2 separate regions of the Homo sapiens genome follow, and region 2 is linked to region 1. The links come from fine-mapping of genetic effects on plasma protein levels. A gene starts in region 1. The other region holds a variant in brackets. All regions are shown on one strand. Distances are from middle to middle. Region 1 holds the start of NISCH (nischarin). Region 2 overlaps NISCH (nischarin).

Region 1 (2,902 bases):
CTGGCGGCTCACAGGACAGCTTGCTGGGGTTGCCAGCCGGCCCTTGACTTAAATAGCCCTGCCCCGCTGCATTCCTGGCCCAGCCCAGCCCAGCCCAGCCCACCCCTGCGTGTAGTATCCTCCAGCCCCTCCTCTGGTCCCAGTGATCTCAGGCTGGCCTGAGTCCCCACGTCCTCTGCCCAGGGCAGGGAGCAGACGAACGGCTACAAGGACCAGGTTTCTTTCCCTCCTGTCCCCCACACTCCCCAAAGGGACTCTCTGAAAAGGTTTCTGGAATGAATGAAAACATAAGCCCAGTGCAGGACAGGAGCTACAAAGTCGTGGGCCCCAGGCAAGGTGCAACACAACAGCTCAGGCTCCCATCCAACCAGGTTGGCGGGTTGCCATGACCTCCACTTTCCAGATAAGGAAACTGAGGCTCTGGAGGAGTGGTGACTTGCCCAAGATCTGACTGACTTGGTAACCCCCGCCTTTAACTAAACCTCTCTGGAATGGGGGTGCAATGTGCAAGGAGAGGCTAGGAGTGCAGGGCCCTGCCAAGAGAAGCCTCGAATGCCAAGCTCATAGTAAGATGCTGTGGAACTGGTGAAGGAGGAAGTGACTGACCCACCTTAGGACAGGGTGGCCAGGAGCCCTTCTGCCAGAGGAGCCTGTCCCAGACCTCCCATCTGCCCAGGGAGAAGTACCCACTTCGGGCTTAAGTCAGCTGCTCTCAGTTATTCAACAGCACCCCTATAGATGCCCCATCTGTGGCAGGCTCTTTCCCTCCTCACCCTCCAATTAGGTTACCACCTCCCTCTTCTAGGTCTCATCTTTCCCCGGTTTAGGATTCAGCACTGTAGTTCCTGGGTCCAGATCAACCTGTCTCCCTCGTTTTGAACTTTGGCAGGCCACCCCGTGGGGTTCTTGTGCTCAGTGGCAGCACACACCCCTCCATCCACCTACACCTTCCTTCGTACAGAGTTCGTATCAAGTTTATCCCTCTTGATAAACACGCTCCCTGCCTCGAGCACTACTGCGTGCTGGGCCGCGCATCAATCAACCCACTCAGTTGTCCAGAAGCCCCACTGACAAGAGATCTCCGAATCTCAGAGAGGTTCAGAACTGGCCCAGAATCACTCTCGCCCTGCTCCGGCGGTAAGCACAGGTCCTATTTTCCCCTCCAACCTGCCTTGCCCTAAAGAGAAAGAGCCCAACAGCCAGGTGAGGCACTATTATGGCCTCCTTTATCAGGAGGAGTAAACTGAGGCCAGGAAGAGCAGTGACTTGCTTCGTGTGGCCTGGGAGACTCGGGACCTTCTGTCCCCTCTTCCCGAGGACCCAGGGGCGATGCCCAGAGCTGTCACCACCCGGGGTCTCAGTTTCTAGCAGGCTGTGCAGGGTACCGCCGGCGGCGCCACGCAGGTAGATTACGCAAGCGAGCACCTCGCACGCGCGCCCTGAGTGGCCCCTGTCAGTCACGCGCGGGGGCGGGGCGAGGGCGCAGGAAGAAGGCGGGGCCAAGATGGCGGCGCAGCGCGCGGCGGGGGCGACGGGCGGCGGGGGCCGGGGGGCGGTGGGACGTTGACCCCGCCCCCTGCTGCTGCTAGTCTGCGCCGGGCGGCGGTGGCGGCGGAGACCCGAACATGGCGACCGCGCGCACCTTCGGGCCCGAGCGGGAAGCCGAGCCGGCCAAGGAAGCGCGCGTCGTGGGCTCGGAGCTTGTGGACACTTATACGGTGTGTTGGGGGCGCGGGCACCCGAAGCGGGGGTGGTGGCTGGAACCGGGAGTCCGACTCGGGGGCTTGGGGAGGGGTCCGGGATCTGCAGCCCCGAGGAGCGGGTAGAAGGGTCTGCGATTGCGAGGAGGGGGCTGGGACGGGGGATCTAGGAAAGGGATCTGGGCCCCGCAGGTCCGGGAGAAGGGTTGCTCGGGGCCCGGGGAGGCGGTTTGGAAAAGGGTACGCGATCAGAAAGGGAGGCTCGGGTTGGGGGCGGCATCTGGGGATAAAGGGGGCTTGGGGAGGGGGGTGTCTAGATGAGGCGGAACCCCTCTAGATCCTCTAGGACTGGAGGGGCCCCGGCCTGGAAGACCGTTACAGGGGTCCAGGAGGAAGGCGATGGGGAGAGGGTCTCTGATGGATGGAATCAGGGAAAAGGGTCAGGCTTCGCAGGCCTTGAAGAAAGAGAAGGCGTCAGGACCCTGATCTGGGGAGCCTGAGGTGGTGGTTGAGATTTTCTCTGAGAAGTGCAGGAGAGACCTGGGGAGCAGATGCCTTGGGGGTCGGGCGGAGACAAGACCGGAGGAGGGGTGGAGCCCATCTATGGAGAAATGGGGGTGGTCTCAGTGCTAAAGCGCAGGCCCTATAAGCCTTAGGAATCTTCGTGACTTTGGGCTGTGGGAGCGAGATGGGGCAACAAGCTGCCCACACACACTTCTAAGCTATGGGGGAGACAGAGGACAAATAGCGGGTAGTTCCCGACTTTGACGGGGTTGGATGCCAGGCCTGTGAGCCTGGTGGGCTGCCTGGCAAAAACCGGCCCTGGACTAGGCATAGAGCACCTCCCTGCCTCCTCCCCTTTGTTCCCGCAGGGTAGGGAGTGGGTGGGGGCCTTGGGCCTGCCTGCACCTCCCCTCCCTGGCCCTCATCCTAACCTTCCGCTCTGAGGGCCATTCTTCTGGCTCTTTTCTCCTTTCCTGAAGGCAAGGGGAAGGAATCAGGCAGGATGGGAAGAGGAGAGGGGTGGATCTTGAAGCAACAGGCCAGCCTGGAGAAATGGCTGCTCCTCAGGGCTGGAGGAGGCTTCAGCTCCATGCTGCAGAGAGGAGGGGGAAACTAGGTGCAGGAGGCGGGTGAGGTCTCTAAGCTGATGGCTGACTGGCCATCAGCTATGGGCACATTCAGCCAGAGGGCCATCTTCA
Region 2 (2,902 bases), 21 kb after region 1:
GTAATCCCGGCATTTTGGGAGGCCAAGGCAGGAGGATTCCTTGAGCCTAGGAGTTGGAGACCAACCTGGGCAACATAGGGAGACCTTGTCTCTTAAAAAAAAAAAAAAAAAATTGGATTTGGTGAAAAATTTTCCTCTTGAGGCTTGCAGAGAGTGTGTTGGGCCACCTGGTCCCTCTCCGAGCACTTCTCACTGTCTTGCTGAAGGAGCCCAGGGCGACCCATTGTGAGAAGAAAGGTCTTGTCAAAACAAATAGGCCTGCCTTTCTCCATTTTGATGGTCTCTGGGCTTTGTGCTACTCCCCTTATCTTAGCATTGTCTGACTTTATTCCTGTGAAATAATGGTTTTAAAGGCCTGGTGTCCACAGTGAGGACCACATCATCAGCTTGGAAAGCACAGCTGCCTGGAAACTGAATTCTCACCTTCAGCCTCTGAGAAGCTAGAAAAGACGGTTGGCTGGCCAGTAGCAGTGGCTTGCACCTATAATCCCAGCACTTTGGGAGGCCAAGGCAGGAGGATCACTTGAGCCCAGGAGTTTGAGACCAGTCTGGGCTATGTAGGGAGACCTCGTTTCTACAGAAAAAAATTTTTTAATTAGCTGGGCAAGGTGGTGTACGCCTGTAGTCCCAGCTACTCAAGAGGCTGAGATGGGAGGATTTGCTTGTGCCTGCGAGTTTGAGGCTGCAGTGAGCCATGATGGCGCCACTGTACTCCAGCCTGGGTGACAGAGTGAGACTGTGTCTCAAAGAAAAAACGGCTAGGCGCTGTGGCTCACGTCTGTAATCCCAGCACTTTGGGAGGCTGAGGTGGGTGGATCACCTGAAGTCAGGAGTTTGAGACCAGCCTTGCCAACATGGTGAAGCCCCCATCTCTATTAAAAATGCAAAAATTAGCCAGGCATGGTGGTACACACCTCTAGTCCCAGCTACTGGGGAGGCTAAGACAGAAGGATGGCTTGAGCCTGCGAGGCAGAGGTGGCAGTGAACTGAGATTGCGCCACTGCACTCCAGCCTGGGTGACAGAGCGAGACTCCATCTCAAAAAAGAGAAAAGGCTAGAAAAGGCATCACCAGGTCACCAGGGCAAAGGCCCTTTGGGCTTGAAAAGCATTGCTCCTAAAGCAGGGCCAGGACTTAATTCTAAGTGGCTGTTATGTGGTAAATTGTTCAGCTTTGAACGATTTCACAATCGTTTAAAGACATAGGAACCAAAGGCATGCTTTAATGCAAGTTTACTTCCACATGCTAAATATGCTCCAGCCCTTCCTTAAATTCTGCAACGACTGTGTTCCCAGTGAGTGTTGCGTGAGGGCCCGAGTGTGGTGCTCCACACAGATGTTTTTATGCAGGAAGTCCTTGTTCCTGAAGCCTCAGAATTTGATGAGTGGGAGCCTGAAGGCACAACCCTAGAAGGCCCTGTGACTGCCGTCATCCCCACTTGGCAGGCATTGACCACGCTTGACCTGAGCCACAACAGC[G/A]TCTCCGAGATCGACGAGTCTGTGGTATGCTCTCAGCAGCAGGTGCCAGGGGTTTCTCTGGCCCCACCAAACCCTGAGTTTGAGTATTTAACTCAGCTTTTTTAGGAAGGACCACGGAAAACCTATATCTAGTGCTCTGTGCATTGCCTGCCATTTTAAGTTAATTACAAAATGGGGGCTGGGCGTGGTGGGTCACACCTGTAATCCCAGCACTTTGGGAGGCCGAGGCGGGAGGATCACTTGAGGTCAGGAGTTCGAGACCAGCCTGACCAATGTGGTGAAACCCCATCTCTACTAAAAATACAAAAATTAGCTGGGTGTGGTGGTGCACACCTGTAATCCCAGCTACTTTGGGAGGCTTAGGCAGGAGAATCGCTTGAACCCGGGAGGCGGATGTTGCAGTGAGCTGAGATAGGGCCACTGCATTCCAGCCTGGGCGACAGAGTGAGACTCCGTCTCAAAAGAAGAAAAAAAAATGGGATCATTTAAAATTGGTGAGGTAGTACTTAGAACCAAATAAAACATAATAATTTCATGTAAATTTGGTAAACTATAACACACTAAATGATGACATTTGCTCCAAAGAGTGGAGCAGAAAAATCACTCCTTAGATGACAGATGTGCCCATGAAAGAATGACACCCAGAGGGCATTTGGGCAGTAAGAGTGTCGTTCCCGTGTTTGCGCTGCTCAGGGAGTGTGGGCAGGGTTGAAGAAGAACAGACTCTCTTCTCTGTCTGGGACCTTGCTGTGTGTCATTTTCACAAGCCAAGTGTTCCATGAAAACTGAGTAGTGCCCAGCACTGGGGGCCCTGTGTGTGCCTTTGGATGTGCTACTGGCTGGGCAGCGGGAGATGTCCCACCAGTGGTCCTGCAGGGACGGCCCGTGGGAGTCCATGGTCGGGAGGAAGCGTCCTGGGGTGCCCGTCCACTGTGTCGGGGACCGTGTTTGGGGTCCAGCCCCCTACAGTAACATCGGGTGTTCTTTTCTTTCACAAGAAACTGATCCCAAAGATTGAGTTCCTGGACCTGAGTCACAATGGATTGCTGGTTGTGGACAATCTGCAGGTAGTGCCTTTGGAGACCAGTGCTGCCCGCACACACTCCCAAGGCCCCGCCCTGAGATTTCAGGAGACTGACGCAGCCTTGGGAATTGGCCAGGGGTTGTAAGGGCAGGGGTTGCTGTCTTCGCTTTAGGATCCCAGCAATGCACTGAGTGATTGTTGCTCTAGTTCCAAAGAATTAGGAAGCATGAGTAAATACAAACCAGGCATGATGATGCACCTCCGTCCTGAAGGTGGACAGCCATGTTTTCAACGCCCACCCCAACTGTCTGCAGGGGTGCCACTGTGCTGTGGCATGTGCGGCAGAGAAGAGGGACTTCCCTTCCTAAAATAACTGTCAGAGTGACTTGCAGAACTGGGTA

What was found. PIP is the posterior inclusion probability: the model's chance that the variant is causal. Sun 2018 read protein levels with aptamers (SomaScan).
Region 2: its variant is fine-mapped to the plasma level of the NISCH protein (Sun 2018, PIP 0.95). The variant lies in the coding sequence of NISCH. If it changes the protein, the assay may bind it differently, which can mimic a change of level.

The regions. Positions count from the first base shown.
Region 1 is chr3:52,454,017-52,456,918 of GRCh38, forward strand. It overlaps NISCH (nischarin), which reads left to right and starts at 1,588. Exons shown (of 21, transcript NM_007184.4): 1 at 1,588-1,718. The coding sequence starts at 1,626. TNNC1 (troponin C1, slow skeletal and cardiac type) reads right to left here and starts at 25. Exons shown (of 6, transcript NM_003280.3): 1 at 1-25. RefSeq lists a silencer at 1,513-1,742 and an enhancer at 2,567-2,902.
Region 2 is chr3:52,475,099-52,478,000 of GRCh38, forward strand. NISCH (nischarin) reads left to right here. Exons shown (of 21, transcript NM_007184.4): 8 at 1,349-1,501; 9 at 2,476-2,544. Among named protein-coding and RNA genes, the nearest start is that of STAB1, 19 kb to the right of the region's middle. The variant G/A (reference allele first, on the strand shown) is at 1,478.